Homo sapiens: one gene and its partners. The protein of the gene in region 1 interacts with the protein of each later gene in a pairwise test. Each region holds a gene or a part of one and is shown in the gene's direction. Other genes may lie near its edges. The genes, in order: PTK7, TPTE, PTPN12 and MTMR6.

What was found.
Region 2: the proteins of PTK7 (region 1) and TPTE interact in a two-hybrid assay, tested with the Homo sapiens proteins (one study listed by BioGRID and IntAct).
Region 3: the proteins of PTK7 (region 1) and PTPN12 interact in a two-hybrid assay, tested with the Homo sapiens proteins (one study listed by BioGRID and IntAct).
Region 4: the proteins of PTK7 (region 1) and MTMR6 interact in a two-hybrid assay, tested with the Homo sapiens proteins (one study listed by BioGRID and IntAct).

Annotation. Positions count from the first base shown.
Region 1 is NC_000006.12:43,127,218-43,136,265, forward strand, and holds part of PTK7 (inactive tyrosine-protein kinase 7 isoform a precursor), read left to right. Parts: intron 1-1,759; coding exon 1,760-2,047; intron 2,048-2,509; coding exon 2,510-2,612; intron 2,613-3,012; coding exon 3,013-3,203; intron 3,204-3,293; coding exon 3,294-3,444; intron 3,445-4,798; coding exon 4,799-4,947; intron 4,948-5,203; coding exon 5,204-5,470; intron 5,471-9,048. UniProt on the Homo sapiens protein: Inactive tyrosine kinase involved in Wnt signaling pathway. Component of both the non-canonical (also known as the Wnt/planar cell polarity signaling) and the canonical Wnt signaling pathway.
Region 2 is NC_000021.9:10,523,348-10,532,395, forward strand, and holds part of TPTE (putative tyrosine-protein phosphatase TPTE), read left to right. Parts: intron 1-1,232; 5' UTR 1,233-1,341; intron 1,342-4,007; 5' UTR 4,008-4,065; intron 4,066-9,048.
Region 3 is NC_000007.14:77,623,000-77,632,047, forward strand, and holds part of PTPN12 (tyrosine-protein phosphatase non-receptor type 12), read left to right. Parts: intron 1-3,705; coding exon 3,706-4,676; intron 4,677-9,048. UniProt on the Homo sapiens protein: Dephosphorylates a range of proteins, and thereby regulates cellular signaling cascades. Dephosphorylates cellular tyrosine kinases, such as ERBB2 and PTK2B/PYK2, and thereby regulates signaling via ERBB2 and PTK2B/PYK2.
Region 4 is NC_000013.11:25,243,679-25,249,493, reverse strand, and holds the end of MTMR6 (phosphatidylinositol-3,5-bisphosphate 3-phosphatase MTMR6), read left to right. Parts: intron 1-1; coding exon 2-262; 3' UTR 263-3,272; downstream 3,273-5,815. UniProt on the Homo sapiens protein: Lipid phosphatase that specifically dephosphorylates the D-3 position of phosphatidylinositol 3-phosphate and phosphatidylinositol 3,5-bisphosphate, generating phosphatidylinositol and phosphatidylinositol 5-phosphate.

The DNA of each region.
Region 1 (9,048 bases):
GCCTGCTGCTTCGTGTAGCAGTTCCAGGTGGCCCATTTCTTCTTCCGGGGGCGGGGGGATCAGGGAGTCCTCTTCTGTGTTCAAGGCCCAGTGGCTCCAGGCCTCTGCAAGTCGCCCACGCGGGCTAGGAACAAAGTCCAGTGTGTTGCTCCTGCCGCCGCCGTAACCATGCCACCCACCTGCCCGGCTCTGCCCTCCGCCTCCCTAAACCCATCTGCCATACAGTGTAGGCTTCTTCCTCTTTCCTTTGTTCCCACTGACTGCAGTTCCACCTTTGGTTGCGGGGACCCTGTGGCCAGAGCTGAACTATAATGGTGCAGGAAGGGGAATGACTTCAAGTGGAACTCTGGAACCACATGGCTCTCCTCTTAACACAGAGAAGCTGACCTTGGCCACAGATGGATTTTCAGGGATAAAGAACAGGACATGGGGCCGGGTGCGGTGGCTCACGCCTGTAATCCCAGCACTTTGGGAGGCCGAGGCGGGCGGATCACGAGGTCAGGAGATCGAGACCATCCTGGCTAACACCGTCAAACCCCATCTCTACTAAAAATACAAAAAATTAGCCAGGCGTGGTGGCGGGCACCTGTAGTCCCAGCTACTCGGGAGGCTGAGGCAGGAGAATGGCGTGAACCCAGGAGGCAGAGCTTGCAGTGAGCCAAGATCGCGCTACTGCACTCCAGCCTGGGTGACAGATCGAGACTCCGTCTCAAAAAAAAAAAAGAACAGGACATGGGAATGACCTTGGCTTGTTTTTGGCAGTAGCCCAGGTTTCTAGAGAATCTTGGCTTCTCCAGTGATGGGTTGGGTTTTTTCAAAGAAGCGTCTGGGAAACGTTGGGCTGCAGAGCATTTGCGGATGAGATTCAAAGCGTCCCATCTGTGGCCACCTCTGATGCTGGCACCGTCGAGGGGCATGAGTGAAGCCATCTTTCCAGGGTGCTGTTTGGGTCATGATTTAACTTTACTAAACCTCCTGAGTCTGTATTGGGGGAAGGTGGCCTGCAGTGTCCCCGGCTCCTCAGCCTGGCATCAAAACCTCCTGTGATCTCACCCTGCAGGCCCAGACTCTCTTTTGCTAGGAAGCCTCCCTGTGCAGCCAGCCCTTAGGGGTCCCTTCTTCCTTCGTGCTCAAGTCACTACTGCCTGCCCACCCCATTCATTTGGCATTTATGTGACTGTAACTGTGTTCTGTGTGCCCCTCTAGTCTTCAGACCTCTTGAGGAGAGGCTACTGTGTCTTTGTATCCTACAGAGCACTCAGCACAGTTGAAAAGCTCTTCAGGGGGCTGGGCGTGGTGGCTCACGCCTGTAATCCTAGCACTTTGGGAGGCCGAGGTGGGCAGATCACCTGAGGTCAGGGGTTCGAGACCAGCCTGGCCAACATGGCGAAACCCTGTCTCTACTAAAAATACAAAAATTAGCTGGGTGTGGTGGCTCATGCCTATAATCCCAGCTACTCGAGAGGCTGAGGCAGAAGAATCACTTGAACCCAGGAGGTGGAGGTTGCAGTGAGCTGAGATCACACCACCACATTCCAACCTGGGTGACAAGAGCAAAAAAAGAAAAAGAAATCTCAAAAAGAAAAAGAAAAGTTTTTCAGGGGACTCTTGCAATTGTGGCATCATGATCCTTCACACCTGCACTTACTGGACGCCTCCTGTGTACACAGCCCCTTTCCTCCTGTGCACAAGGTGGCCTGTGTTAGGACAGAGGCTGCAGCTCCCCCTGACCCTGCCTCTCCCCTGTTTGCATCTACAGGTACCCAGACAGCCATTGTCTTCATCAAGCAGCCGTCCTCCCAGGATGCACTGCAGGGGCGCCGGGCGCTGCTTCGCTGTGAGGTTGAGGCTCCGGGCCCGGTACATGTGTACTGGCTGCTCGATGGGGCCCCTGTCCAGGACACGGAGCGGCGTTTCGCCCAGGGCAGCAGCCTGAGCTTTGCAGCTGTGGACCGGCTGCAGGACTCTGGCACCTTCCAGTGTGTGGCTCGGGATGATGTCACTGGAGAAGAAGCCCGCAGTGCCAACGCCTCCTTCAACATCAAATGTGAGAGCCAGGGGGGCTGTGCCCAGTCCCCCTGTCAGACCCTCAATGACTGAGGCCTGGGGGATCCCTCCCTTACCTCAGCTTCTCCCATTTCCAGTTAAACGGGCCAGGCAGAATGCATTTATCATCAGCTTTTTTTGCTCATGTGGATAAGAGGAAATTAAAAGTTATATTTTTTCCAAAATTTTTTCCTTCAAGTCTGGGACCCATTTATCTGCTGCATGCTTGTGCAAATGGAAAGGGCGGCCGAGCCCTTGGCCAAGTGTCAGACTTGACCTGCCAGGGACCAGGCAGGCACTTAGTATCTGGTAACTGTAGCCCCAGCCTCAGCCTCCAGGGCTTCCTTGTGTCTGTTGGCACAGAGCCTCGAGGTTCCACGGCTTCCTGCTTGTCCTCCTTGCCCTCTGCCTTCCCGCCTTTGCCCTGCTCTGCCCCTCACTGCAACCGTGGCCTCTGCTACAGGGATTGAGGCAGGTCCTGTGGTCCTGAAGCATCCAGCCTCGGAAGCTGAGATCCAGCCACAGACCCAGGTCACACTTCGTTGCCACATTGATGGGCACCCTCGGTAAGGAGTCAGGGAGGTGGGGATGAAGAGGGTTATTCCGGACAGGGATGTCTCCCCAAATCTTGGACTCTATGCGGATGTTACCTCGCTCCATTCTGTGACCACTCGTTCCACCACCACAGTGCTCTTCACCCTGCCCTCCCCCAGATATTGCCCTATGCCGGCCCCTGGTGGCCTGAAGAGTGAGCCACATTGTGTGTAGAGCTGGGAGATCTAATATCAACTTGATTCTGCCCCTGAATCAGAATTACTGTGTGCCCTTTTGCAAGTCCCTTCCCTTCCTCAGGCCGTTTCTCCATGTATAAACTGAAAGGTCTAGCCCTGACCCTCTGATACTGTATCCTCTCCACTGGCCACTGAGTACCCCTCCCCACCACTGCTGACTGTGTCTGCCCTGCAGGCCCACCTACCAATGGTTCCGAGATGGGACCCCCCTTTCTGATGGTCAGAGCAACCACACAGTCAGCAGCAAGGAGCGGAACCTGACGCTCCGGCCAGCTGGTCCTGAGCATAGTGGGCTGTATTCCTGCTGCGCCCACAGTGCTTTTGGCCAGGCTTGCAGCAGCCAGAACTTCACCTTGAGCATTGCTGGTGAGCCTGGGGTGGGGGCGGAAGGGATGAGGTGAGCACAGGAGGGCCTCACCACCCAGGCTGCATGCTCCCCCATCTTTCCCTCTCCAGATGAAAGCTTTGCCAGGGTGGTGCTGGCACCCCAGGACGTGGTAGTAGCGAGGTATGAGGAGGCCATGTTCCATTGCCAGTTCTCAGCCCAGCCACCCCCGAGCCTGCAGTGGCTCTTTGAGGATGAGACTCCCATCACTAACCGCAGTCGGTAAGGCATCTGGCTGGGAGCATTCCAGTACCATGTACCACACACATGCATTCTGTAGAAGGGGGTGCGATTTGTATCACAGACATCACAGATTTGTACATGTATTATTTCAAATTTCCAAGAGACACAGTTGAATGTTTTGCTTTTACAAGATGAGTCTGACACAGGGAAGAGTCTCTGGGAAGAGCCCTTTTCCAGTTTGCACAAAGGCACTCTGAGCTAGTGATGGTTCCACTTCTCTCTCCCCACCACCCACATGGGTCTTCTGGGATGGAAGGGTAGAGACCCCAGGGATGAGAGAGACACAAGAGACCTAGGTAGTCAGGTGGTCATAGTCTAGATAGCGTGATCCAGTGTGGCAAAGACATCACACACACACACACACACACACACACACACACACACACACACACACACTTTTTAGAGGAAGCAAACACCTCTAGAAGGTTCCAGCCCTACTGCAGGGACTTCTGTTCTTGCCTGGACCCTAGGAGAACATAGAACACCTTTGCAGTGTCAGGCACGACCATGGTCCTTGGGGGTGTGGCTTCCTAGGCTAGGGGCTTGGATGCCACTTGGCTTCAGCCCTGAGGACATCATCAGTAGCCTGCCTGGTATGGCTGAGGGGTATCTGACCCTGGAGCTGGGTGCCCTATCAACGTGGCCCTGTGGGAAGGTGGCTTCCCTGTCTTGACAGTTGCACATGGTGGTTATTCTGTGTATTAGTCCATTTTAATGCTGCTGATAAAGACATACCCGAGACTGAGCAGTTTACAAAAGAAAGAGGTTTAATTGGACTTACAGTTCCACATGGCTGGGCAAGCCTCACAATCATGGCAGAAGGCAAGGAAGACCAAGTCACGTCTTACATGGATGGCAGCAGGCAAAGGAGAGAGAGCTTCTGCAGGGGAATGCCTCATTTTAAAACCATCAGATCTCGTGAGACTTGTTCACTATCATGAGAACAGCACGGGAAAGACTTGCCCCCATGATTCAGTTACCTCCCACTGGGTCCCTCCCACAACATGTGGGAATTATGGGAGCTACAATTTAAGATGAGATTTGAGTGGGGACACAGCCAAACCATATCACTCTCTCTCGCACCTGCATTGCCATTTGCCTCATTGCTTCCCGAGCTGATCTCCTGTAGTTGGAACACACACCTGCACGTGCACCTGAGCAAGTGTATGCAGGCACACACACCAGTCTGGAGTGTCAGCTTCCTTCTCTCTGCCCTGTTCCTGGTCGATTCCTTACTACATTTCCGACTTTGCAGGAAAGGGGTTCCCTTGCATTCCTTTCCAGAACTAGGCCTATTGGCCACTTTCTCCAAATTGCACTCTCCCCTCTGCAGCCCCCCACACCTCCGCAGAGCCACAGTGTTTGCCAACGGGTCTCTGCTGCTGACCCAGGTCCGGCCACGCAATGCAGGGATCTACCGCTGCATTGGCCAGGGGCAGAGGGGCCCACCCATCATCCTGGAAGCCACACTTCACCTAGCAGGTGAGTCTCTGGGTCTGGGGTGCTGATGTGGGAGGCTGCCTTTAACATTTTTGGCACATAGAGATTTAGGCTTCTGTTTTTACTCAGCCGCTTGGAGGGCAGGGGAAGAAAAGGATGCTGGGAGTAGGAAGAGGATATGCAGAGGGCTGCAGGGGAGGGTTTGTGCTGGGAAAGGGCCTAGGCTTGCTGTGGGAGAACATCATGTACCCTGAGACCCACAATAATTGGGCCATTCCTCCTACTTATGTCCTTGCAGAGATTGAAGACATGCCGCTATTTGAGCCACGGGTGTTTACAGCTGGCAGCGAGGAGCGTGTGACCTGCCTTCCCCCCAAGGGTCTGCCAGAGCCCAGCGTGTGGTGGGAGCACGCGGGAGTCCGGCTGCCCACCCATGGCAGGGTCTACCAGAAGGGCCACGAGCTGGTGTTGGCCAATATTGCTGAAAGTGATGCTGGTGTCTACACCTGCCACGCGGCCAACCTGGCTGGTCAGCGGAGACAGGATGTCAACATCACTGTGGCCAGTGAGCACCTTTGCCCTGAAGGTCAAGGAGAGGTGGAGGGGAACACAGGTCTGGGTGTGATGGACAGAGGCTTCCCTGGTACTCACCTGAGGTCCTCTCAGTTCTGGGCCCTGCAGGCTTGGGAATCAGTTCACTACTGGGAGTCGGTGTAGACAGTAGAGAGCCAGGCACAGGGGTTAGGGTGGGTGCTCCAGAGGAAATAGTGACAGCCCTCACAGAAAAATGGTCCTCTGGGTACAGAGGAAAGAGCAATAGACTAGGAATCTAGAGACCTGGGTCCCACTATGCTCCCAATGCACAGAGTGACGATGGTAGCAAATCACCCACCTTACTGGGGTTCAGTCTCCTCATCCATAAAATGGAGCCAGTAATCTACTACCTACCCCACAAGGTGGTTGGAAAGGTCAAATGAAGTAGATGAAAATGATTTTTCTTTTTTTCTTTTTTGGGAGGTAATAGTGGACAAAATTATAGGTGATTTTTAATTTGTTTTAGTTTGTTATGCTTTCCAAATTTCTTTACTAAACATATTACTTATGAAAAAAAAGAGGGGGAGAAAAGCAAGACATATGACTGAAAGTACACATGATAAACCCTTTATATCAGGCTGGGCGCGGTGGCTCATGCCTGTAATCCCAGCACTTTGGGAGGCCGAGCCGGGCGGATCACAAGGTCAGGAGTTGGAGACCAGCCTGACCAACATGGTGAAACCCCATCTCTACTAAAAATACAAAAATTAGCTGGGCGTGGTGGGGCACACCTGTAATCCCAGCTACTCAGGAGGCTGAGGGAGGAAAATTGCTTGAACCCAGGAGGCAGAGGTTGCAATGAGCTGAGATCGCACCGTTGCTCTTCAGCCCGGGCAACAGAGTGAGACTCCATCTCAAAACAAAACAAAACAAACCTTATATCCTCACTACAGGCATAGGGATTTATTTGTTTACTTATTTCTTTATACCATGCCTTGTTCCAAACCTTTTGTGGTAGTTTAAAAGGATACACAATAAAAATTACAATATGCACACAGAGACACACATACATACAAACTATTTTGCAATCTGCTTCTTCCACTTACCTTTATGTTACTATTATCTTTCCGAGTGGGTAACTTTGCAAAAAGATTTGAATATGAAAGTGGCTTTGTAAATGTGAAGTTGTGATGCTAGTATTCCCATTAGGATACTGAAATCTTAGAAGACATGCACCTATACTCAGGCCGTGATTTGGGTGGGAATCACAGCACATGTGTAACGAGTGCTCAGGACACTCACAGTGCAGGTGCAAAGGCAAGATGCACAGTCAAGCCTTCCTCCAGTTGAGGTCTGAGAATCACCTGCTTTCATTAGGGATACTTTTTCTTCTTTTGTTTGAGACGGAGTCTCACTCTGTCACCCAGGCTGGAGTGTAGTGGTGTGATCTTGGCTCACTGCAACCTGCGCCTCCCAGGTTCAAGTGATTCTCGTGCCTCAGCCTCCCAAGTAGCTGGGTTTAAAGGTGTGTGCCACCACACCTGGCTAATTTTTGTATTTTTAGTAGAGGCGATGTTTTACCATGTTGGCCAGGCTAGTCTCAAACTCTTGACCTCAAGTGATCCACCTGCCTCGGCCTCCTAAAGTGCTGGGATTATGGGTGTGAGCTGCCATGCCCGGCCTCATTAGGGATACTTTTTAAAACACAGGCCAGGCGTGGTGGTTCACACCTATAATCCCAGTGCTTTGGGAGGCCGAGATAGGAAGATCTCTTGAGCCCAGGAGTTTGAGACCAGGCTGGACAAAATAGTGAGACCTTGTGTCTACAGAAATTTAAAAAGTTAGCTGGGCGCGGTGGCTCACGCTTGTAATCCCAGCACTTTGGGAGGCCGAGGTGGGTGGATCACGAGGTCAGGAGTTCGAGATCAGCCTGACCAACATGGTGAAACCCCGTCTCTACTAAAAATACAAAAATTAGCTGGGCATGTTGGCACTCACCTGTAATCCCAGCTACTTGGGAGGCTGGGGCAGGAGAATTGCTTGAATCCAGGAGGCAGAGGTTGCAGTGAGTCGAGATCGTGCCATTGCACTCCAGCCTGGGTGACAGAGCGAGACTTTGTCTCAGGAAAAAAAAAAAAAAAAATTTAGCCAGGTATGGTGATGCACACCTATAATCCCAACTATTTGGGAGGCTGAGGCTGGAGGATCATTTGAGCTCGGGAGCTGGAGGTTCCAGTGAGCTATGATCACACTACTGTACTGGAGCCTGGATGACAGCAAGACCCTGTCTCCAAAAAAATGTCTAAGACATTGCTGGAGCCTTGAAAAAAAGAAAAAAAATGCAGAATTCGGGGCCCCACTCCACAGCTTCCAACCCAGGCTCTAGGGGTGGGACCCAGGTAGATGTGTATTTAACAAGTGCTCTGGGTGATACTTCATGTGTGTTCAAGTTGGGGAACTCTGGCTTTGATCAGTCATTCCACAGATGCTGACTGAGGCTGACACTGAGCCATGCCAGTGTCCCTTGCTGTGCTCTGAGAAGGAGGCCTGTGGCATTTGAGAGTGTGTGATGCAAACAGGGCCAGATCAGGTGCTGGGTGTTAGAGGGTAGAGCCCAGAAGACGGAGAGCTCTGGGAATGCATTCAGTCAACAGAGATTTGTCGAGCACCTTGTGCTAGCTCTTCCCAGTACTGGATGCAACTGTGAACAAAGCAGGCAGAAGCCCCTCTCCTTGTGGAGTTCATATTCTAACAGCGGGGACAAAGCCAGTAAGAAAAACTATCAAATGAACAAATATAATTTTAGGTGCCAGTAGAACAAGGGAGAACAATGAAATAGGGCAAGTGATAGAGAAAGGGCAGGGCCAGTGAGAGTTTAGGGAAGACTTCTGTAAAAGGTGCATTGGAGTTGGTATTTAAATTAAGAAGGGAGCCAGCCATGTGATAGGCCCTGAGATGGAAATGGGCTTGTATGTTGGAGGAACAGTAGTCGCCTGTGTGGCTTGAGTTGAATAAACGATGGTGAGAGGGGTTGAAGTTGCCTGAGAGGTGGAAACTAAATCCCATAGGCCTTGTAAAAGCATAGTAAGGACTTTGGCTTCGGCATCAGTTATCCATTGCTACATAGCAAACCACTTCAAAACGTGGTGGCACTTTGGGAGGCCGAGGCAGGTGGATCACTTGAGGTCAGGAGTTTGAGACCAGCCTGGCCAACATGGTGAAACCCCATCTCTACTAAAAATACAAAAATGGCTGGGTGCAGTGGCTCACGCCTTGTAATCCCAGCACTTTGGGAGGCCGAGGCAGGTGGATCACGAGGTCAGGAATTCGAGACCAGCCTGACCAACGTGCTGAAACCCCGTCTCTACTAAAAATACAAAAATTAGCCAGGTGTGGTGGCATGTGCCTGTAATCCCAGCTACTCAGGAGGCGGAGGTTGCAGTGAGCCGAGATTGCGCCACTGCACTCCAGCCTGGGCGACAGAGCGAGACTCTATCTCAAAATAAAATAAAAAATACAAAAAAAAAAATTATCCAGGCATGGTGGCACATGCCTGTAATCCCAGCTACTTGGGAGGCTGAGGCAGGAGAATCGCTTGAACCTGGGAGG
Region 2 (9,048 bases), on another chromosome or scaffold:
GTGCAGGTTAGTTACATATGTAAACGTGTGACATGCTGGTGCGCTGCACCCACAAACTCCTCATCTAGCATTTGGTATATCTCCCAATGCTATCCCTCCCCCCTCCCCCCACCCCACAACAGTCCCCAGAGTGTGATGTTCCCCTTCCTGGGTCCACGTGTTCTCATTGTTCAGTTCCCACCTATGAGTGAGAATATGCAGTGTTTGGTTTTTTGTTCTTGCGATAGTTTACTGAGAATGATTTCCAATTTCATCCATGTCCCTACAAAGGACATGAACTCATCATTTTTTATGGCTGCATAGTATTCCATGGTGTATATGTGCCACATTTTCTTAATCCAGTCTATCATTGTTGGACATTTGGGTTGGTTCCAAGTCTTTGCTATTGTGAATAGTGCTGCAGTAAACATACGTGTGCATGTGTCTGTATAGCAGCATGATTTATAGTCCTTTGGGTATATACCCAGTAATGGGATGGCTGGGTCAAATGGTATTTCTAGTTCTAGATCCCTGAGGAATCGCCACACTGACTTCCACCATGGTTGAACTAGTTTACAGTCCCACCAACAGTGTAAAAGTGTTCCTATTTCTCCACATCCTCTCCAGCACCTGTTGTTTCCTGACTTTTTAATGATTGCCATTTTCAAAGAATAGTATGTTTTTAAGTCTGTGCAGTCTTGGGCCAAGCTCGTTCTATTCCCCATTCTACAAGAATCACAAGAGCGCTAGGATTCTGTTTGGGGTTGCCGTGGACACAGAGTTCTTACTACAGAACTGACTTATTCTCAATAGGAGGTAAAGACCTAGAGGTGAGGTCTCTGAGCAAGGGAGTCCCATCCCATCCTCTGCCCTCTCTGTTGGCTGTTATCCTCTCATCTTCATCAGGAGAATTAAAATCATGTAAAGTTTTGGCGGGGGAACTAGATGGTGGTCTCTGCGGCCCATAGACAGGAAAGTTTGCTTATACCCAGCTGGGGGGACCACTAATTGACATTCCTTTCCCCTCCCAGGGACCTTACAGAGTCCCCTTACCCTCACGGTACTGGGGGACAACCCGTGGGTGTAAGGCCAAATAGCAATAACCTTGTTACTTGCCAGGAATTGGGTCAAGATTTGATTTAACAAGCTTGGTTTTGGGAACTAAAAAAATGAAAAAAGGAAAAGCCATAATCTTGAAAGGCAACAAGAGAGAAAACTGCTAACAGGATCTTGATTAAATTTCTCCCTCTTAGAGAATGTTGGACCGACGACACAAGACCTCAGACTTGTGTTATTCTAGCAGCTGAACACACCCCAGGCTCTTCTGCCCGGCAGTGGCTCTGGAAGCAGTCTGGTGTATAGGTAAGCATGTCCAGGGCTTATAGGGAGAAACTCCCAGAAATCCAGCTCTGCCTTGGGTTGCCCTGGTTCACGTCCAAAGATGTGCTTGGGCCACATCTCTGGAGCACAAGGTGGTAGACTGAGAGCTTTGATATTTCTACTCCTACTGCAGATGAGCTGGTATAACTCTGAAGGTATGGAATTTGCTGTTGTCTGTGACCCAGCAAATAAAAATAGAAAAATAATTCGATAGAAAAATAATAGAAATAGAAAAAATTTAAAAAACAAACCAAGCCTCATTCTATGACATTTTAGGCAGTGTGATAATATGCATATACTGGTCACTTTAATCTTTCCTACAGGGGCAGCTGGTTGCCCTAATGTTGGATGCTCTGTTCAAGGATGGTAAGCTAGTGTTCAGCTCAGGAAGCCACTCCACAGAGATGGCCACCAAAAGGGCTTCAGTGGTCCCATCTCAATTAACACCTGAAACATTGTTAATTATTACAGTGAAGGTCACAAATGGGTTTTTATTAGTGAAATTGGCGGCTTACAAAGCAGCATGATGGATGTTACAATTATATGACATTTTAAGATCTGTGAATCAACTAACGTGTTTTGGAGACAGCCCACCCTTGCATAAACAGGATAAAGGTGTATGAGGGTGGCCTGTAGTGTATATTTAGAGACGACACCCAAGGCTTGATCCTCATATGGTCCTATCTCCAGGAACGTTTAGGAAGATTTTGGCCTCTGAAACATTAGGAATCTGTTGAGAATGAAGCTTTCATGCTTGGAGTACCTAAAGTGCGGAAAGCTTACAGAAGCTTATATACTGTGTCTGCTTGCTACTGAATGTTTTGTTAAATGAATATCTGTATGTGTGGCAGATTTGGTCGGAGACCTACTTTTCATTATAACCTGGTAGCATGATTATAAAGGTGTAGCTAACCTTCAGCTAACTCAAACTTCTGTGGTTGCTCCTATCTACCAAAAAGCATTTAAGAATTCTGCATGACCACTTCAGTTTAGGACGGTTTGCAATTCTCACCTTCCTTAGGGGGCAATTTAGCTAGTTACTTATTCATGTCCCATGAGGGAAGTCATTCTGTGCCCCAAAGCAGCTTATCAAAGTATTATTTCAGACTTCATGCAGTACTCTCCCTGGAGTTCAGGTAACATCTATGGATGTCTCGTGCCCTTTTTGGAGATTAGTTTCCCAAGGAACTTGCTTAGCAATCCTGGCTTGTCACCTGAATCTGGAGTAATTTGAGTGTCTTCCAGTTCTCTTCCTCAGTAGAGGATGTCTGAAAAATCTAGTAATCATTTAATAAGGCTGCTTATGTCAGAAACTCAAATTCTTACCTTTTTGGTGTTTTGAACATTTTCCCCTGTTATGATTTATTAGTGTATTCTGCATAGACAATCCAATTATTCATCCTGCTGAAAAGTAGCGGATGCCTATAGATGCCTTTCTTTTTGTAAAAGGTTATTGTTTTTCCTGAGACCTGGATGAATTTCCAGGAGCCATTCAAGGACATGAGAACACCCACTTAGAACTTGAAAGGTTCCCCTCATGGCCCTCAGACCAGGCTAACGAGATGCGATAATTTGAACTCTGGCACTCCTTTCCTCACAGGCTGAAAGACTAGCACAATATTAATGTCTATCTGTGCTTAAAGGTTGGAGCTATTGATCAGAGTCCAAAATTAGTTTGTGTAGGGGAACTTTTCTTAAAGACATAAAAAGATACCATTTAATATATTGTTTCCAAAATGTGTTTCTCACACATTTCCACTGTGAGAAAGAGGTTCTGTGGTCAAATAGGTTAAGAAACCTCAGCACACTCTTAGAGAATCCCAGTTGTTATCAGCAGCAAAAAAATGTATGTGATCAGTTTCTTAAACTTATTTAAACGTTTGAAAAGTTAGAAAATTGTGGTGAAGAGCATTAATTCTTGAGTCTTGGGAGTGTATTACCTTGATGAGAATGTTTGTGTATTTGAAACTAAAAATGTGTATCCGTTTATATTGCCACATACTGATTTTTATGGCATAATATATGGTGTAGAGAGCAGGTTGTCTAAAAACCAATATTGGCAAAATGCTGAATATTCAGCATGGTTTTATGAAGTTGACAGATGTGGAGTGTATTTTGCATGTGTCTTAACTTACAGATGAGGAAATGAAGTAGCAGAGAGATTAAATTAGCCAAGCCAGGGGTTTCGGTGCTAGGAAGTCTTGATATTGTAAAACATAGCCATATAACTTTAAAAAAATGAATCCAGACAAAGAGAAAACAAAATCATTGTAAACACATAATCCACTTTAAGTTCACAAAATGTTTTAAACATAATTAAGGCTTGACTTATCTACTTGTTTATTTCCTACCAAGGATGACCGGGAACTAGCCATTGATATAGAAACATTCATTATTCTTACATTTTCTTTCTTTTTTCTGTGTCCCCTCTCTCTCTCTCTCTCTCTCTCTCACACACACACACAGACACACACACACACACAGTCTCAGAAGTACTAGTGCTGTATCCTGAAATTGTTTCTTTAGTTCTTGTCAAAATTCCTCCGATTTTATTTTTTGTGTCCTGAAATACTGTTGAGATTAACATCCTCATTGCCTTCCAAAATATCTGACTTTATTTTTTGTATGTGCTTTTTACTCTTTGGTAGAGTTATGGATTCACTACCAGATTCTACTGTATGCTCTTGACAACTATGACCACAATGGGTGAGTTGACTGATCTAAGTGGTGAAAAATACTGGGAGCATCAATGGCAATAACAGCTTTCTATCAGAGACTTTAAGCATCTTTGGTAACATTGTTTTTGAACCAGAGTGGAAAAAATAAGATCAGGTCAGAAGAAGGATGCTTGGTACTCAAAGATTGTTTGTGACTCTAAGTAATTAGCAGCCAAAACCTTAGGAAACTATCAGAATGCCTGTGTATGAGACTCTCTTCAAGAGTGGTCCAAGAGAGGAGAGAATCCTACTTGGAGAAAGAAGGTGGTAGCATTGGACAGGCAGCAGAGGAGCCCTCAGCAGCAAGAAAGGAGCTAAGAGACCCTGTATCTGTCCCTCACCCTTCAGAGCTGGTGCCCCAAACTCAAAGCCATCATCACATTGGATGGAGCCCCTGCCTCAGGTTTAGTCACTTGATCCTATTTGAGGAGAAGCAAAGATATCTGTGACTCATGAAGAGCATGAAGGTGGTGGAGGGACTTGATAATTAGGAAATCAAAATGGGCAAGAATAATGTGTGCCTACAAATGGGACATGAATTTGAAGGAAATTTAAGTTAAATTTGCTGCCACACATGATGATCAGGTTCAGTAATAATTGTATTTAAATCTTGATTCATTAAACTTTTTTGAGAGTCCTAAACAATTTTTATTACCAACACATAGAGACTTCTTTCTAGAGAAAAATCAAGTACCAGGTGCCAAATAACAGATTTACATGAGAATTTTTAGGGACAACACATTGTAATTTGTAGCGCAATCATAGCCAATTTGAACCAAAAAAAAAAATCGTGTATACATTTATGTTGTTTCTTACTATTTACCTTTCAATCCTTTGCACTGACTCCAATGAATTGACATCAGAAATCTGTGCTGGAGTCAACAATGAAAGGGGATGTCATAATATATATTGGAGATGGGAGGAATTCAGGTTTGTGAAATTCAGTCTCAGAATTATTCATGGGAAAATAGTTTTCTGGACACTGATTCTAAAATTCTTTCTAAAAAGTTGGGTTTTAAGTAAGCTAAGTCATATTTACCATATCTTTTAGATTCAAGGAATTTTGTTGTTCAAATAAGTTGGTCATATCACCGCTCCATGTGGCAAATCTCTAATATATTTTTGCATTTGATGTTTGAAGTAAAATGCAGCAACCTTACATAGAGCTTTATAATAAGCTTCATGTGTTCAAATATAATTGGTACTTTTATAACTGATGCTGTTTGTGTTATACTCAGAAAGTTACTTCTTATCGTAAGATTACCAATATAGTCACCAAAATATTTTTTTATATTTTGAATTAATTTTCCACATTTAAATAAAACAAGTGCTGCTGCTGTTGTTACTATTCCCTTTTAACGTCTCCCCAAATTAGTGTTTTATTCTGTATACTTTATGAGATGGCAGCTTAACAATACCCTTAATATGGCCCAAGGATTCTACAAAAGGAAATGCTGGTGTGTTTGTCAAAAGTGTTTTCTGGCTGGGCATGGTGGCTCAAGCCTGTAATCCCAGCACTTTGGGAGGCTGAGGCAGGTGGACCACGAGGTCAGGAGTTCAAGACCAGCCTGGCCATATGGTAAAACCGCGTCTCTACTAAAAATACAAAAATTAGCTGGGCATGGTGGTGCATGCCTGCAGTCCCAGCTACTCGGGAGGCTGAGGCAGAAGGATCACTTGAATCCGGGAAGCAGAAGTTGCAGTGAGCTGAGACAGCACTGCTGCACTGCAGCCTCGATGACAGAGCAAAACTCTGTCTCAAAAAAAAAAAAAAAAAAGTGTTTCCTGTGCAGATTATCTGTTCACCACTTGCAGATTTGAAGTTTACTAAGCATGTGTGATATCTAAAAGTTCATTTGAAGGATAAGTTTCAATGCCAAAAATGTTTAAAAGTGGGATATAGGAAGATGATGCAAAGATGGAATATCCAAACATTTCCATTTTCACCAGGAGGACTTAATAGAATGTCTAACAGCTACTTTTAGATATTTTTGAAATGTGAGAGGGGTGAGTTAACACAAAAGTAGACTGTGAGATTAAAATGTCTGTTCACTCTAAAATCTCAGCATTCACTTTCTTATTGTTAAGTTATTCATCAGACTCTTTTCAGAGACAACCTAAATGCAAGCTCTTAGAATATTACAACATCTTTTATATGAGATGACAGGAAATAATTTCATGGCCTTTTAAAGGATAGATGAGGGAATTGAATACCACTTTCAGATTAAGTAACTCCTCTATTGAATATTACACTGTTTTATGGTTCATATCTCTATTGTGGTTGAGAGGTATTGCCAGATTTATTCGCTGACAAGTAAATATTATTCAGTTTATAATTAATATCCATGTTGGGGGGAGATACTTTCAGTCTATGTTAAAACTATTTTCAATGTTCAGTATCCTGTTCCACATAAAACTTTCATGCCCTAGTTTTAGCATTCATTGATTTTTATGTGAATCAGTTGTAACTGTGATCATTACAAAATGGTGATTTTTTTTTTAAAAAAAGTAGTTTTTCTGTGTTTAATAAGTATCATTCTATTATAAGGAGAGCTATTCCTACCCCTATTTGTTCACTATTACTATGAACTTATAAATTCTTACATTATTTCAATGAATTACAATCCTTTCTGTCATTATTTATTTTGATCTTTAAATGGTCTCATATTTGGCCAGTGGGACTCCCTAAAAGCTAGCCCCTGTGTCCTTTTGACTTGACATGTTCCCATCACTTTTTGAGCATTTCCCCAGCCCTGGAATCAGCCATTTACCCAAAGAACCTCATGCCCTTTAGAAACCAATCAATATTTTGCATTTGGTATGCTGATTGCCATTGGCTCATTGCTACTTGTAGGCCTTTTTAATATCTAGATGAGAGTACAGATATACATATTGACATATACAGATATATGCACATATGCAACAATTTTAATATGTTTAATACACAGTATATACATTTATATGTGTTCTGTAAACTATGTATTATTGTTTTGCCTATATGTTTTTAAATTTACTTAAATGGTATTAAGTTGTATCTCATTTTGTTAGTTTTTTGCATAGTAACATAAGATTATTCTTCTTGTGCATACCTTTCGTTGTTGCTTTTAACTGGTATGAAAAATTGCACAGCATGCATCCCCTAGTGAGGAACACATATATTGCTTCCTACCATTTGCCTTCACAAAGAGTGCCGCTAAATAATTATCCTTATGCCAGACCCCTATAGACCTGTTTGAGTATTTCTGTAGGAATATGAAACAGGACTTGATGGGCCATGGGATTGCATATTTTGAATTTGACTGAATACTGCCTATTGCTCTCACAATGGTTATACCAGTCTGCATCTCCTGAATAATGCATGATGGTTCCTACACATACACATTCACAACAACACTTGACATTATCAAACTTTCCAATTTATATAATCAGTCTAATAGATGGTAACATATTGCATTATGTTTTACTTTGAATTTATGTGATAACTTATGAATTTGAGCATCATTTTATGTTCTTATAGCATTTGGGATTTCTTCTGTAATGGTCCATTCATGAACTTAGCCCGTTTTTCCACTAGTGTTCCTATCTTTGTCTTGTTAATTTACGTGTGCTGTTTTTGAATATTTTATATTTTAGAATAAGTTAATCAAATTTCTTTTAAAATTATGTTTAATTTTCAAAGTGATTATGTTACATCTGTAAACAATATAGCAAGAATTCACTCTTTTTAGTAACATTAAAAACATGGTGTTATTGTTTGGAGATTTGTACCCCCAAACCGTATGTTGAAATTTGATCCCCAATGTCGGAGGTGGGGCCTAATGGAAGGTGTTTGGAAGATGAATAGATTAATTCCCTCCCTTGGAGTGAGGGTGAGTGAGTACTCACTCTATTAGTTCTTGCAAGAGCTGGTGGTTTAAAAAGAGACAAGCGGCTTCCCGCACCTTGATTCCCCTCTTGCCATTTGATCTCTGCACGTGTCAGTTCCCCTTCATCTTCCACCATAAATGGGAGCAGCCTCAGAAGCAGATGTTGGCATCAGGCTTCTTGTGCAGCACACAACTGTGAGCCAAATAAACCTCTTTTCTTTATAAATTACCCAGCCTCAGGTATCCCTTATGGCAACACTAAACAGACTCAGATGCATGGAATCCCATTCAAAAGTTTGGACTATCGCTTTATGTATTCAAATCATCCTTCATATCAGTTTGAGACATTGAAGTTATGTGCTCTAATCCGTCATCTGCCTGTTAGCTTTGGCATTGTTGTTCTTCATTCTCTTCATGAAATAACTTTTTGCCTTATTATTTTACTTTTGAAGTTTGAAATTTTCCCACTTTCAGTCTACAAAGGTAATTTCTAATCCTCATAGTTTTAATTTACACATTTAATGCTTTAATCTACTTAGAGTCTACCCTTCAATATGGTGTTAGGTGGGGATTTGGTTTCATTTGTCTCCCAGTGGTAGGCTGATTTTCCAAATACCATCTATGAAACAGTTCATCCTTTTTCCTTGTTTATGTAATCATTGTCAATGACATATATCCACATAGGTTTATCTCTGAGCTCAATATTTTGGTCCATTGATACTTATGGCATCCCTACACCTTTTTTTATTAGCATGATTAGTTAAGTTATTAATGGAGCCTTTATATGTTGACATAGATTTTGTAGTAAGTATGTCAATATTCTAAAAAATTTTGAAAAATACCTATGTGGGCCCTGTGGTGTTTGGGAGAGGGAAGGGCTTTAAATACTAGGTTGATTTCTTTGTTACTTGAGTATTCTATTTCTATATAAATATATTTTCTTGCACTAATGTTAGTGTTTTATATCCGTCTAGGAATTTTTCCATTCCATCTAAGTTTTCACATTTATTAGCATATAATTGAATAATCTTATTTTAAAAAAATTTAGTTGTGTTCTAGTTATGCTCCCTTCTTGTACATTTTATTTGGATATTCACTCTGTTTGT
Region 3 (9,048 bases), on another chromosome or scaffold:
AGAAGAAATTAGCAAAAAAAAAAAAGAAGAAAAAATGTGTTAGAATTAAAGGGCATAAATTTTTATATAGAGCGTATACACCAAGCTTGATATACACCACCAAATGTGATGGATAAAAATAAAATTGTTAAAAAATATAGTTTTTTAAGTTACATTATGAAATTATAGAACATCCAACATAAGAACCTTGCTTAGGTTTAGAGTAAGATAAAAATAATGCTGAAATTTGGAGTAAGTTTTTTTAAATTAAAAACTTTGAAAATACTCGATTAACAAACCCATATATCATACTCGATATCTGTCAAGCACTGTTCTAATTGTTGTTCAGATGTTAACTCATTTAATTCTCCTAACTACCCTGTGAAAAAGGTACTGTTAAGGATATATGGGGTTTGTTAATCAAGTAAATCTGTAAAATACTGGTCATGAGGCCGGGCATGGTGTTTCACACCTGTAATCCCAGCATTTTGGGAGCCTGAGGAGGGCGGATCACTTGACGTTAGAAGTTTAAGACCAGCCTGGCCAACATGGCGAAACCCTGTCTCTACTAAAAATACAAACATTAGCCGGGCGTCATGGCGCGTGCCTATAATCCCAGCTACTTGTGAGGCTGAGGCAGGAGATTCGCTTGAACCTGGGAGGCGGCGGAGGTTGCAGTAAGCTGAGATTGCACCACTGTACTCCAGCCTGAGTAACAGAATGAGACTCTGTCTCAATAAAAAATATGTAAATAAAATACTGATTATGGAAAAGTGGTCTCACCATGTACACGTAGGGAAAATAATACACCTCAATTTATATCAAAATTTTATCTCATCCTTTTAAAACTCATATTTTCTATTTGTATTATAATATGTTCTTAGGATAACCTATTGGTCTTTGCATATGCTTTATAAATTGTAGGAGGTGTCTGCAATTATTTTTGTTTTAGATCGCAAAAATTTGACAGCCACTCTTTCAGATTAAGAACCAACTTGTAGGCCAGGTACAATGCCTCACACCTGTAATCCCAGCTCTTTGGGAGGACATGGCAGGTGAATTGCTTAAGTTTAGGAGTTTGAGATCAGTCTGGGCAACATGAACATGGCAAAACCACATCTCTACAAAAAATACAAAACTTAGCCAGGTGTGGTAGTGCACACCTGTAGTCCCAGCTGCTTGGGAGGCTAAACTGGGAGGATGGCTTGAGCCCTGAAGGCAGAGGTTGCAGTGAGCCAAGATAGTGCAACTGTACTCCAGCCCAGGTGGCAGAGCAGGACCCTGTCTCAAAAAAAAAAAAAAGAATCTACTTGTAAAACTTGAACAGATATAGGAATATCTTATGAGAGTATTGCTGTCATTTTAATATGATCAGTATTCTGGAGATATTCATTTATCTTCTCATGTCCTAGGAATGTGGGAATGTGTCTAGAGAATCTGAACTTCACAGAGTCTTTATTTATTTATTTTATTTATTTTGAGACAGAGTCTTGCTCTGTCACCTAGGCTGGAGTGCAGTGGCGTGATCTCAGCTCACTGCAACCTCTGCCTCCCGAATTCAAGTGATTCTCCTGACTCAGCTTCCTGAGTAGCTGGGATTACAGGCGCACGCTACCATGCCTGACTAGGGTTTTGTGTTTTTAGTAGAGACGGGGTTTTGCCATGTTGGTTAGGCTGGTCTCAAACTCCTGATCTTGTGATCCGCCTGCCTTGGCCTCCCAAAGTGCTAGGATTACAGGCGTGAGCCACCATGCCTGGCCCACAGAGTCTCTTTTAAGGGGAAACCTGGTGTACCATGTGATTACTGCCAGTTATCTGGTTGGATAAAAAAAGGTTGATCACCTGGGGGGAGAAAAAAAAGCAAAAACTCTGAGGTGGGGTCCAGTGGCTCACCCCTGTAATCCCAGCACTTTGCGGGGGCCGAGGCAGGCAAATCACTTGAGGCCAGGAGTTGGAGACCAGCCTGGCCAACATGGCAAAACCCCATCTCTACTAAAAATACAAAAATTAGCCAGGTGTGGTGGCATGTGCCTGTAGTCCCAGCTACTCAGGAGGTTGAAGCACAAGAATTGCTGGAACCCAGGAGGTAGAGGTTCCAATGAGCCAAGATGGTGCCACTGCACTCCAGCCTGGGTGACAGAACAAGACTCTATCTCAAAAGAAAAACAGAACACAAAAACTTAAATATACAAGCCCTCAAGAAGTTTGCTTCATATAAAGTTCTTAAAAAGCAACAAAGCCTGGGCAACATAGTAAACCCTATCTTCTTCTTTGGTTTTTTTTTTTTTTTGAGACAGGATCTCATTCTTTCACCCAGGCTGGAGTGCAGTGGCATGATCAGAGCTCCCTGCAGCCTTGACCTCCCCAGGCTCAGGTGATCCTCCTACCTCAGCCTTCCTAGTAGCTGGGACTACAAGCATGCATTGCCACATCCAGTTAATTTTTTTGTATTTGTTAAAGACACAGGGTTTTGCCATATTGCCCAGGCTGCTCGCTCTCTCTCTCTCTCTCTCTCTCTCTCTCTCTCTCTCTCTCTCTCTCTCTCACTCTCACTCTCACTCGCGCTCTCTCTCTCGCTCTCTCTCTCTTTTTTTTTTTTTTTTTTTTTTTGGAGACAGTCTTGCTCTGTCGCCCAGACTGGAGTGCAGTGGCGTGATCTCAACTCACTGCCATCTCCACCTCCTGGGCTCAAGCAATTCTCCTGCCTCAGCCTCCCAAGTATCTGGGACTGCAGGTGTGTGCCACCACACCTGGCAAATTTTTGTATTATTAGTAGAGATGGGGTTTTACTGTGTTGCTCAGGCTGGTCTCAAACTCCTGAGCTCAATTGATCCACCCACCTTGGCCTCCCAAAGTGCTGGGATTACAGGCGTGAGCCACCATGCCTGGCCCCTATTTCTTTAAGGAAAAAAATAAAGGCAACTAGAGGGTATAACCCACCCGAACAAAGGAGTATACCCAGAAAGAGGAAAATGAGACCTGGGAAACAGGAGAATCTGAAACCAGAGAGAACATTAGCTCTGTGATGGACTAGGGAACCAGTAGTCCACACTGGAGCAGGAGGCCAAAAGTTACTAACAAGGATGTCTGTGGTATTGATACTTACTATGTGTGCTTGTCATTATTGAGAGGAGGTATACCAATCTGCAAGAAAGTTAGAAGAAAAGCTGAGTAACTGATGATGCATAGAGAGCTAAGCCATCAGAAATCCAAGGCAGTCATTAGGGGAAAACAAGACACTATAGAAGAAAAGATACGAAATCATGGTGTCATAGATGGGAATACTATCTGCAGTCATACGACTGAGGTAATGAAAAATTACAATATAACAGTATTGGAAAGATAGAGAAGGACACTTCCACAGTAGGAAGTCAGTAGAAAATGTGTGAAACAAAGATCAAGAAATAACTTTTGAAATAGTCTGAAATACAGAGGTGTAAATTTTAGAAGCAGCTATAAAAAAATGTTGAAAGTTGATGCCTCTGGCTAACAGGAGGGCTGCGGGGCAGAGACTATGTTTTTCATTCAAAGTCTTGTATTTGACTTTTTAAACAGTATATGTGTATTACCTTGATGAACATTAAATTTTCTTAGTCTGAAAAACTGCAGTTTTTATTCGCAACCAGATTGTAATGGCTCTTAATATGCTACTCTTAGCTACATAATTCTCAGGTATCAACTTGTTTAACAGTCTTAAAATGCCCTTTTTAAATGTTTGTTTTTCAGTTGCCTTGTTGAAGGGGATGCTAAAGAAGAAATACTGCAGCCACCGGAACCTCATCCAGTGCCACCCATCTTGACACCTTCTCCCCCTTCAGCTTTTCCAACAGTCACTACTGTGTGGCAGGACAATGATAGATACCATCCAAAGCCAGTGTTGCATATGGTTTCATCAGAACAACATTCAGCAGACCTCAACAGAAACTATAGTAAATCAACAGAACTTCCAGGGAAAAATGAATCAACAATTGAACAGATAGATAAAAAATTGGAACGAAATTTAAGTTTTGAGATTAAGAAGGTCCCTCTCCAAGAGGGACCAAAAAGTTTTGATGGGAACACACTTTTGAATAGGGGACATGCAATTAAAATTAAATCTGCTTCACCTTGTATAGCTGATAAAATCTCTAAGCCACAGGAATTAAGTTCAGATCTAAATGTCGGTGATACTTCCCAGAATTCTTGTGTGGACTGCAGTGTAACACAATCAAACAAAGTTTCAGTTACTCCACCAGAAGAATCCCAGAATTCAGACACACCTCCAAGGCCAGACCGCTTGCCTCTTGATGAGAAAGGACATGTAACGTGGTCATTTCATGGACCTGAAAATGCCATACCCATACCTGATTTATCTGAAGGCAATTCCTCAGATATCAACTATCAAACTAGGAAAACTGTGAGTTTAACACCAAGTCCTACAACACAAGTTGAAACACCTGATCTTGTGGATCATGATAACACTTCACCACTCTTCAGAACACCCCTCAGTTTTACTAATCCACTTCACTCTGATGACTCAGACTCAGATGAAAGAAACTCTGATGGTGCTGTGACCCAGAATAAAACTAATATTTCAACAGCAAGTGCCACAGTTTCTGCTGCCACTAGTACTGAAAGCATTTCTACTAGGAAAGTATTGCCAATGTCCATTGCTAGACATAATATAGCAGGAACAACACATTCAGGTGCTGAAAAAGGTAATAATATAGTGTCAAATACTTAAATGTCTTTCCTATGTGCTAGTCACTGTTTTAAGCACTTTAGCTGTATTGATTTATTATGTTTTATTCCACACTCTACCATAGAACCTACAGCAAAATCTGTCTTAGATACTAATTTTTTAATATAAGCTTTTAATGTATTGTTAACAATTTGGTCACATTATATTACTGGGTTTTGTGTTTCTAAATTATTTTAGTAGTTATAACTGGATAACTTATTTTCTTTTTCTTCTGTATTATAGATCTTAGTGTTTTTGTATCGGTCAAAAATTTATCTGACTGAATAATTAGAAATAATTTAGGGAAGAATCACTTAAAATAACAGTGGCAAAAATACTGTAGAATGTCTTGATTGGCCATATAATGTTACTCGTTTTTCCTAAATGTTTAGTCATTTTTTACTGTTCCTTTAACTACAGATTACATTTTTTTGTTTGTTTGTTTTTACTGTCTTCACAAATGCTTCCAAATATGGCTGCTTCCAACCCTGAGTTTAACCCAGGAACAATACTGCAAACTGCTCAATTCAGTAGTGAGTGGGCTATATGCATACCTACTCATCAAAGCTATTATTTAAAGAATTATTATTTTTTTAGCACTCTTAGCATTTCAAGATAATGCATGCACTCAGTTCCCAAAGTGTATTATTGCTTCTTGAAACTCCTCTTTGATCTGCTGAAAGTAATGATGGCTACCATCTTAAACAGACCCTAAGGTTGAGAGTAAACATATAAATTTGAAAGCTGTTTATTGATATATTGATTATCAGTGGTCACTTACCTATCAGTGAACTTTGGTAGTGACACATACAGACTGGTATTTATAACGTGCAGGCAAAATAAGTACTGTGACCTTGAAAGATTTTTTTTTTTTTTTGAGACTTGCACTCAAAAGATTTTTTTTTTGAGTCTTGCACTGTCACCCAGGCTAGAGTGCAGTGGCAAGATCTCGGCTCAGCCTCCCAAGTAGCTGGGATTACAGGCACCCACTACCACACCCAGCTAATTTTTATGTTTTTAGTAGAGACAGGGTTTCGATATGTTTGCCAGGCTGGTCTCAAATTCCTGGCCTCAAGTGATCTGCCCACCTAGGCCTCCCAAAGTGCTGGGATTACAGACGTGAGCTACCACACCTGGCCTTGAAAGATTATTTTCTATTTCTGACCCATTATATACCACCCATACTGTAGTGCTTGTATTTTCTCTCACACATACTGTATTTTTTAACTTGAGAGAGTGTATTTGGTAGACTAGATGACAGTCTTTTTGAGACAGAGTTTTGCTCTTGTTGCCCAGGCTGAAGTGCAGTGGCGCAATCTTGGCTCACTGCAACCTCCGCCTCCTGGGTTCAAGGAATTCTCCTGCCTCATCCTCCCTAGTAGTTGGGAATACAGGCATGCGCCACCATGCCTGGCTAATTTTTTGTATTTTTAGTAGAGACAGGGTTTCACTGTGTTAGCCAGGATGGTCTGGATCTCCTGACCTCGTGATCCGCCCACCTCGGCCTCCCAAAGGGCTGGGATTACAGGCGTGAGCCACCACGCCCAGCCAGGTGACAGTCTTAAACTATTTGCTTAAATTACAGAATTATCTTTTCTTGATTTATCTTTGTTTTATTTGAAGGATCTTTAGAAGATAATGAATAGTATAATATTACTTTACCAGTTTACCATAATTTTAAATTGCTAATGTCTTTTGTTCCTCAGCTTCAGAATTTGAAATATAACTGCCCAGCTGTAACTATATAAGAAAATATGTAGATAAGAAATTTTCATTTTGAGTTTTTAGTATATCAAGCATGTGGTATTGTACCTAGGAAGTTTTATTGTTTTTTTGTTGTTGTTTTGTTCTTTTGCTTTTTTTTTTAAAAAAAACCAAAAAACCATTACTGGAAATAGGATTTGGTGAGGGCCAGAAAGATGTATGATGTGATATGCTTATTAAAAGTTACTACTACATGACGAGTCTGTTGGTGGCTCATGCCTGTAATCCCAGCATTTTGGGAGGCTGAGGCAGGAAGTTCACTTGAGCCCAGGAGTTCATAACCAGTCTGGGTGACATAGTGACACCCAATCTCTACAAAAGATAAAAAACTAGCCGGGCATGGTGGTGCACACTTGTGGTCCCAGCTACTCTGGAGGCTGAGGTAGGAAGATCACTTGAGCCTAGGAGCTCAAGGCTGCAGTGAGCCATAATTGCGTCCCGGCACTCTGCCTGGGCAACAGAGGGAGACCCTGTCTCAAAAAAAAAAAAAAAAAAAGAGTAAGATATAGCTAAAAGCACCCTACTATGTGCCAGCTCATTTCTGTTTGTTTGGTTTTGTATTTCAAAGCAAAAATCACTATACATGTGATTTCTGGTTTCTTTTTACTCAACCTTAACTATGTTATTGGTTTGATTTTAACCGAAGATTTTCCTGTGTGTAAATGTTCTTTGTTGCAGCATAACTACAAGTAGTCTCATTTTTAATGTGTTGCCAAATATTTACCATATGGATTATTTACTTTATAGATTGTTTATTTACCTTATAGATTATTATTTCCTTTGTAGATCATTATCTTATAGAGCCATTGGCACCAGAATTAGAGTTTTGGGGGGTTTTTTGGTCCTAGAACTTGTTAGTGAATTACAGTCACACATTTCTTAATGGCAGGGATATGTTCTAAGAAAAATATGTCATTAGGCAGTTTTGCCATTGTGTGAATGTCATAGAATGTATTTACACAAACCTAGATGGTATAGTATATACTACACATCTGGGCCATACAATGTAACCTCTTGCTCCTAGGCTACAAACTTGTATAGCATATTACCATACTCAACAATTGTAACACAATGGTAAGTATTTGTGTATCTAAACATAGAAAAGGTACAGTAAAAATATGGTATCATAATCTTACAGGACCGCTGTTGTTTATGCGGTCTTGTTGATGAAAACATCATTATGTAGTGCATGACTATAATGGAATACTTTTGTATTGATACCTAAAAAAAACTTTTGCATAAGTTACTGCCTGACAAAAATTCTTAGCTATCAATTCTAATTTCAGTCTTGACTTAGGCCTCCTGAAAGATTTCTCAGATTCAACTACAGAAGGCCCCATACAGTGTATGATTTGCAAAAGCCTATATAAAATACGCAATATCTGGTTGGATAACCTCTAAAACAAAAGTTTTTAACAGGAAAGGCAGCCCAAAGTTCCAGGGAGAAACATGCATTTGCAAAGCAAGGGCCACGCTTAGAAAATAAAAGTTTTTAAGGGTGAGAACTGCCATGAGAGAAAAAGCACAGAGTTTCTGGAAGATAACTGATAGAAAAAGGGCTGAACTGCCCTTTTTGTTTTGTTCATTTAATTTAAGAAATGGTACCAGAATGCCAAGATTATGTGTCCCTTCCTTCCAACAGCCATCTCTTCACTGTGCGCTGTTAGTAGCAAGAGGGCAAGGAGACATATGGTGATGACTCAGACTACCACTACTGGATAAGGTAGATAGTTCTTTAGTGGCAAGAGAGAGTTCTGGTACTCTTGGTAGATGTATCAAGTATTGGACTGGAACTCCTCTTTCAGGAGGACCCAGAAGCTGTATTTTCTTGCGTCTCCAGCTAAATAAATGTAGGTGGGGCAAAAGCAATCATACTCACCTCATGCGTGTTGAAAATTGACAAGACCTATGCATAGCCATCAGGTGTGGTAAAATAGCAGAGTATCATGGCAGAACTGTGTGTTCATTTAAGAACAATGGGCAAGGCTCAAGACAAAATAATACAGGACCGTCGCATTTCTTTTTCTTTATCCCACCCTCCCCAACCTGAGAGTTCACACACAGGATTGTATTCTTATATTTTCTTTCTATTCCTCCAGTGAAAACTCAAAGATCAAATACACTCATTTACCTTAAGCCATAATAAAGCTAACCAATGAGGCTTACTTAATGCACTCTCTTTCCCAAGAGCTAATTTTGTTTTTACTAGTGAAAAACCTGTATATAGCTTCAGTCAGCATTCTCAAAGTACAGCCATGTGCCACTGTACACAAAATCTTTAGCAATAAATAAATGAAGATTTTTTAAAAAACTTTAATAGCTATATCTTTATCTGTTTTGGAAAAATAACTAGTATTTCCAATGTTATTTCAGTTATTGCTGTTTAAGACATGACTGAGGTACACAGTTAAGTTTAAAATGAGTCAGATTTTAAAAGTGAATAGGACACATGTTACATAGTATGGCAAAAATCATGAAAGGTGTTAAGCAATTGAATCCTGTTTGGGAAACACTGGCTTAGGCGTTTCATAACGCAAATGACCAAAGCTTTCCTTTTTGGACACAAAACATCATCAGTAAGCTCA
Region 4 (5,815 bases), on another chromosome or scaffold:
GAAAATTAAACAACGCAAAAATAAGCAAACAGATGGCATCCTCACCAAGGAATTGTTACATTCAGTTCATCCTGAATCACCTAACCTCAAAACTTCCCTGTGTTTTAAAGAGCAGACTCTGCTACCCGTAAATGATGCTCTTCGAACTATAGAGGGCAGCAGCCCGGCAGATAATCGTTATAGTGAATATGCAGAAGAGTTTTCTAAATCAGAACCTGCTGTGGTCAGCTTAGAGTATGGTGTGGCAAGAATGACTTGTTAGACTCATAGAGTTTTTTCTGCAATGATTGCAGTACAAGAAAAGGATTATTGTGAGGATGGTCTGTAAGCATAACCAAAAGGAATTTGTCTAATAACAATTTTAGGGTTTAACAGTAGGCTAATAGTTGAAGGAAGGATAATAACTACCCTTGTGAGAGAAATAAGTCATTTTAATTGCATTTCCAGCAAGGAATGACATTCAGTTCTGTAAGAAATGAGTGGTATTTGATGTATTTACTCAAAACACAATTTGCACTGTACACTAGTGAATTGACGTTTATGATTTATGTTAATTCAGCCAAACATAAATAACCTTCCTTAAGTACAATTTAACTTCAAGAAAACAAAATTTGACAACATAGTTTCTTAATAAATGATATGGCATGTACTTTCAATTATGTAGCTTTGTAACTATGAATATTTACATATTTTGCCTTTTAGTGATATTTAATGTTAAAGTGCCATGAAAAATATTTCTAAGAAAGCCTTAAATTCCCAGTGGATTCTTTACCCTTAAGTTTTACAGCCTACAACAAGATTTTTTGTTTTGTTTTTCTTCTGGTCAGCCTTGTTTTGTTTGTAAAGAATTGTGCTCTCATTACTGCTGGGGGTGCATGCTACAATACTTCTATATAAACACTTGTAGAAGTACACTGTTCACGTTTAGCCTGCCCCACTTTTGTATTCAAAATTAATGAAACTGAAGGTTTATTCTGATCATAATTTGTTTAGTGCTACATTTGATAATTTATTATTTACAGCTTAGAATATTGATTTCTTGAATACGTATAAGCACATTTGACTGTCTTTTATATATGGATTACTGCATTCCATTGATTCTTATTTTGTGGTTGGCTTTATTTCTTTCACAACTGTGTAAGTTTAAAGAGCTAAAGCTCTAAAACTGTTCTGAGAAACAATGAATAGTACATGTATATGTATATTTTTAAACTGCCTTATTGCTCAATGAGTTGCTGTTCCTGGAGTATCTAACTTTCAGTTTACTCAAAAACTTTTGGGTAAATAAAAAAGGGAAGTACAGATAGTTTAGGTTGTGCATGGTTGCATGAATTTTGAAGTCATTTCTATGTGGAGCATTATTTTTCTTCTTGTTAAATATAGAAAAAAAAAGAGATTCTAGTACAAAGTTACTGTTTAACAAAAGCAACATAAACTCTGGGAAAGATTTCATTTTGCCATGTTATATTTACTGTTTATTCTGTGTACTAGTACATATCTTTAAATTACCAAAAAACAAGAAACAAAACATAAAAACCCCAAAACTATCACTTGGAATTAGCAATATCACCCAACTGGCTTTAAAATTGAAAATTTAAATAACATGGTGGCATGAAGTACAATTCGAGTATTAGGCAATTTGCATAGTGTTCCTCATGCTACTTTCTGTTACACCTCTATTATATTAGTTTTGAATATAAACATCTTTTTCAGACCAAAAAAAACTTTATTGTATGAGAGCTTATCTTATCCTGTTTATTTTTCCAATGCTTTTCTGTAATACATTATGTAATTTAAAAAATATTCCTTTTTAAACAGCAACAGAAATGCACTATAAAATATAGTATGTGATTAACCAATCCTGCTTCCATATTTAAGCACTGGGAATGGAAACTTAATCTCTGTGACTACAAAGGGAAGTTTTTGTGCCTTGGTGTTCCAGTCACTGATTGTGGTTTTAGAATCTTCTGTGGCTGACTTCTTGTATTCAACTCTGGTTTATTATCTTAATCTTCAACTTCAGACATATATTTGTGTGTTTATATGCTCACAGGTGGACTGAGAAATCAGTTACATCTTAAGTGACCTACAGGGTATATGTTGGCAAAAGCAGACTGTGTATATGTCTTATAAAGTTGAATTTATGTTCAGTGTGTTTGGAAGTGTATAGCATGTAAATTACTTCATATATGATTTAAAGGTAATTAAATGTTCACATTTTACTTTGAATGTTTTTCTTCTGGATAAAACAAATGGAATCAAGTTGTAGTTGTTTTTTTTTTCTTCTCACCTAGGCAAGTAGACTTGCCCATTACATTAACATAACAGCATAAGGTTTGAGGAGTTTATTTTCCAAAAGTTTGTTGATAAATAATACCTGTTTCATACAAAAATAATTTCCAGAATATTTAAAATAGGTATAGTGGGCTAAAAGGCCCATCAGATGTAGGTAATAATGTCATTAAGTTTTCATTTTGTTCCTGTCACTTGCTTATATTACAATCACTATTTTTTTGTGCCCTTGCCAACTTGATGGAAGGCAGGGTCCATTGAGTACAAACATTCGAGGTGAAATGTCTCTCCAAAGGCAGATCTGGATGTAAATATGAGGAAGAAAATAACTGGCTGACAAGAGGATAATTTTATTGAGGGTGTTTTGAAAAGGTCAGCTAGGCTAGAAGTAGCTCAGGGAATCTTGAGTAAAGATGAAGGGAACTCTTTTAAAACAAATTCAATTTATTTGGTCGGGTAGCAGAGCAGGGAGGTGGTGTCAGTCAAGCCTGTTTTGAAACATTTTTTGCAGAAGGTCAGCTTTAAAATATTGAAAAATTTCCAGTTGACATGCTAAGTTGGATTAAATGCTGATCATTTATAAAACTATATAGTTGCTGCAAAAGTAATTGGGGCTTTTGCCATTGAAAGTGATGACAAAAACCGCAATTACTTTTGCACCAACCTAATACTACAGTTGCAGACTTTTATTAGTGACGCTGATCTTCATTAGTCAAGTTTTAGTTATTTTGTTGGCTTTTCCATGTAGAATTCCAAGTGACATTAACATACTTTGATTAATTAAAGAAAATTTGGAGACTGTTTAAGATATATGTCTAGATATCAATGTAAACTATAAGCTTTAGGAACTTACATCTAGAAGAAAGCCTGGAATCTAGAATAATTATCTCAAAAAAAAGTATATATACCATTGTACTTGATATAAGAAAATGTAAACATGAAACCTTGACATTTTAATAAACAGTATTTGTGCTACTCTAGTTATTTCTAGGAAAGTAAAATATCCATTTAAATGGCAACTTTTATAAAATAGTGGCCTGCATAACTGAAAGGAACTTTCAGAAGCTAGTAGTAGACTCTATAGCCCTGGTGTTCAGTTTCTGATTCAGTAGTTAGGGGTTGGGACTCTGGAGTTAAAATCATTTGCATACCAATAAATTGTTTGCACTTAGCAATATTTTGGATATTGTGATGCAAATGGTTGGGGAATCATACTTTGAGAAACACTGCTGTAAACCACCCATCATGGTCAGTAAACATCTTGTTTGTTCTTAAAGGGATGCCGAATTATTCTTTTTTTTTTTTTTTTTTTTTTTTTTTTGAGACGGAGTTTCACTCTTGTTTCCCAGGACAGAGTTAAAGTGGCACAATCTTGTCTCACCACAACCTCCGCCTCTGGGTTCAAGTGATTCTCCTGCCTCAGCCTCCGGAGTAGCTGGGATAACAGGCATGCACCACCACACCGGGCTAATTTTGTTGTTTTAGTAGAGACGGGGTTTCTCCATGTTAGTCAGGGTGGTCTCAAACTCCTGACCTCAGGTGATCCACTGGCTTTGGCCTCCCAAAGTGCTGGGATTACAGGCGTGAGCCACCACGCCCCACCTCAGAATTACTCTTGTATAAAGAGCAACAGGCTAGGGAGCATCACACTTCTGAAACATTGTGATACAAGTGGGAGTGAGAAATAAACCTTTGTTTTAAGCCACTGAGAATTTGGGCTCTTTGTTACTGTGGTGTAAGCGTGCCCCTCCTGAGGGATGAAACCATTTGTACAAATTTCTGTTTTTCCATTAGTTCCCAAATGGCCTTTGTCCTGCTATTTTGCGTCAGTAGCCAGCTGAGGTTTGTGCATTGCATTTGGTTGTAGCTCATCAGTCTCTGTGTTGAACAGCCGGTCACCTCTTCCCCTCTGCATTGACCTTTTGCACCAGACCAGTTGTAGTTTTCCCACTTTCTGCTTTTGTCTGATTGTTTCTTCGTGGTGTAATTTAACTTGTTCCTCTGTCTACTGTACCTGCTGTCAAGTAGGTACTAGATGAAATTCAGAGTTAGCATTTCAGGAAAGATGCTGTGTACTTAATATTGAATTACTGCGGGAGGATATAATGCCAGGTGGTTCCATTGTTAGTGACGCTAAATTTAATCACTTGGTTATCTTTTCATTGTAAAGATACATTTTTTCCCTTTGAACTCAGCAAATGCTCTATGGGGTGATATTTTGGCATCAAATTGAATATCCCTTTCCTTAACAACCTATCCATTAATTATACTTGCCCAAATCAGTTATTTCTTTGGTGTTACAAAATGCTGATTCTCTAATTTTGTTTTAACTTTTTACACTTATTTGCCTGCATTTGTTTGTTTGTTTGTTTGAGACAGAGTCTTGCTGTGTTGCCAGGCTGAAGTGCAGTGGCGCAATCTCGGCTCACTGCAACCTCCGCCTCCCGGGTTCAAGTAATTCCCCTGCCTCAGCCTCCTGAGTAGCTGGGACTACAGGCACGTGCCACCATGCCTGGCTAATTTTTTGTATTTTAGTAGAGACGGGGTTTCACCATCATGTTGGCCAGGATGGTCTCAATCTCCTGACCTCGTGACCCCCCACCTCAGCCTCCCAACATGCTGGGATTACAGGTGTGAGCCACCACGCCCGGCCTTGCTGGCATTTTTAAAAGAAGTGCTGGGTCCAGTGAGTACACATACACTGGAAAGCAGTGAGAGGTGAGGCCAGCTGGACTTCTGGGTCAAGTGGGGACTTGGAGAACTTTTGTGTCTCAAGAGGATCGTAAAACGCACCAATTAGCACTCTGTAGCTAGCTAGAGGTTTGTAAAATGCACCTATCAGTGCTGTGTAAAAACGCACCAATCAGCACTCTGTGGCTAGCTAGAGGTTTGTAAAATGCACCAATCAGAACTCTGTAAAATGGGCCAATCAGCACTCTGTAAAATGGACCAATCAGCACTCTGTAAAATGGGCCAGTCAGCAGGACATGGGCGCAGACAAATTAGGGATTAAAAGCTGATCACCCCGCACCCCAAACCCTCCCAGCCAGTAGCAGTAACCCACTCGGGTTCCCTTCAACGTTGTGGAAGGTTTGTTCTTTTGCTCTTCACAATAAATCTGGCTGCTGCTCACTCTTTGGGTTCCTGCCACCTTTAAGAGCTGTAACACTCATTGCGAAGGTGACTTCCTTCATGAAGTCAGCAAGACCAGGAACCCACCAGAAGGAACAACCTCCGGAAACAGCAGGGTCCAGTGAGTACAAACATTCAAGGTGAAATGTTTCTCCAAAGACAGATCTGGTTGTAAATATGAGGAAGAAAATGACTGGCTGAGAAGAGGGTATTTTTGTTGAGGATGTTTTAAACAGGTCAGCCAGAGTAGAAGTAGCTCAGGGAATGGAGTAAAGATGAAAGAATTTTTTATTTTTATTTTTATTTTTTGAGACAAGTCTCGCTGGATCACCCAGGCTGGAGTGCAGTGGTGCCATCTCGGCTCACTGCAACCTCCGCCTCCCTGGTTCAA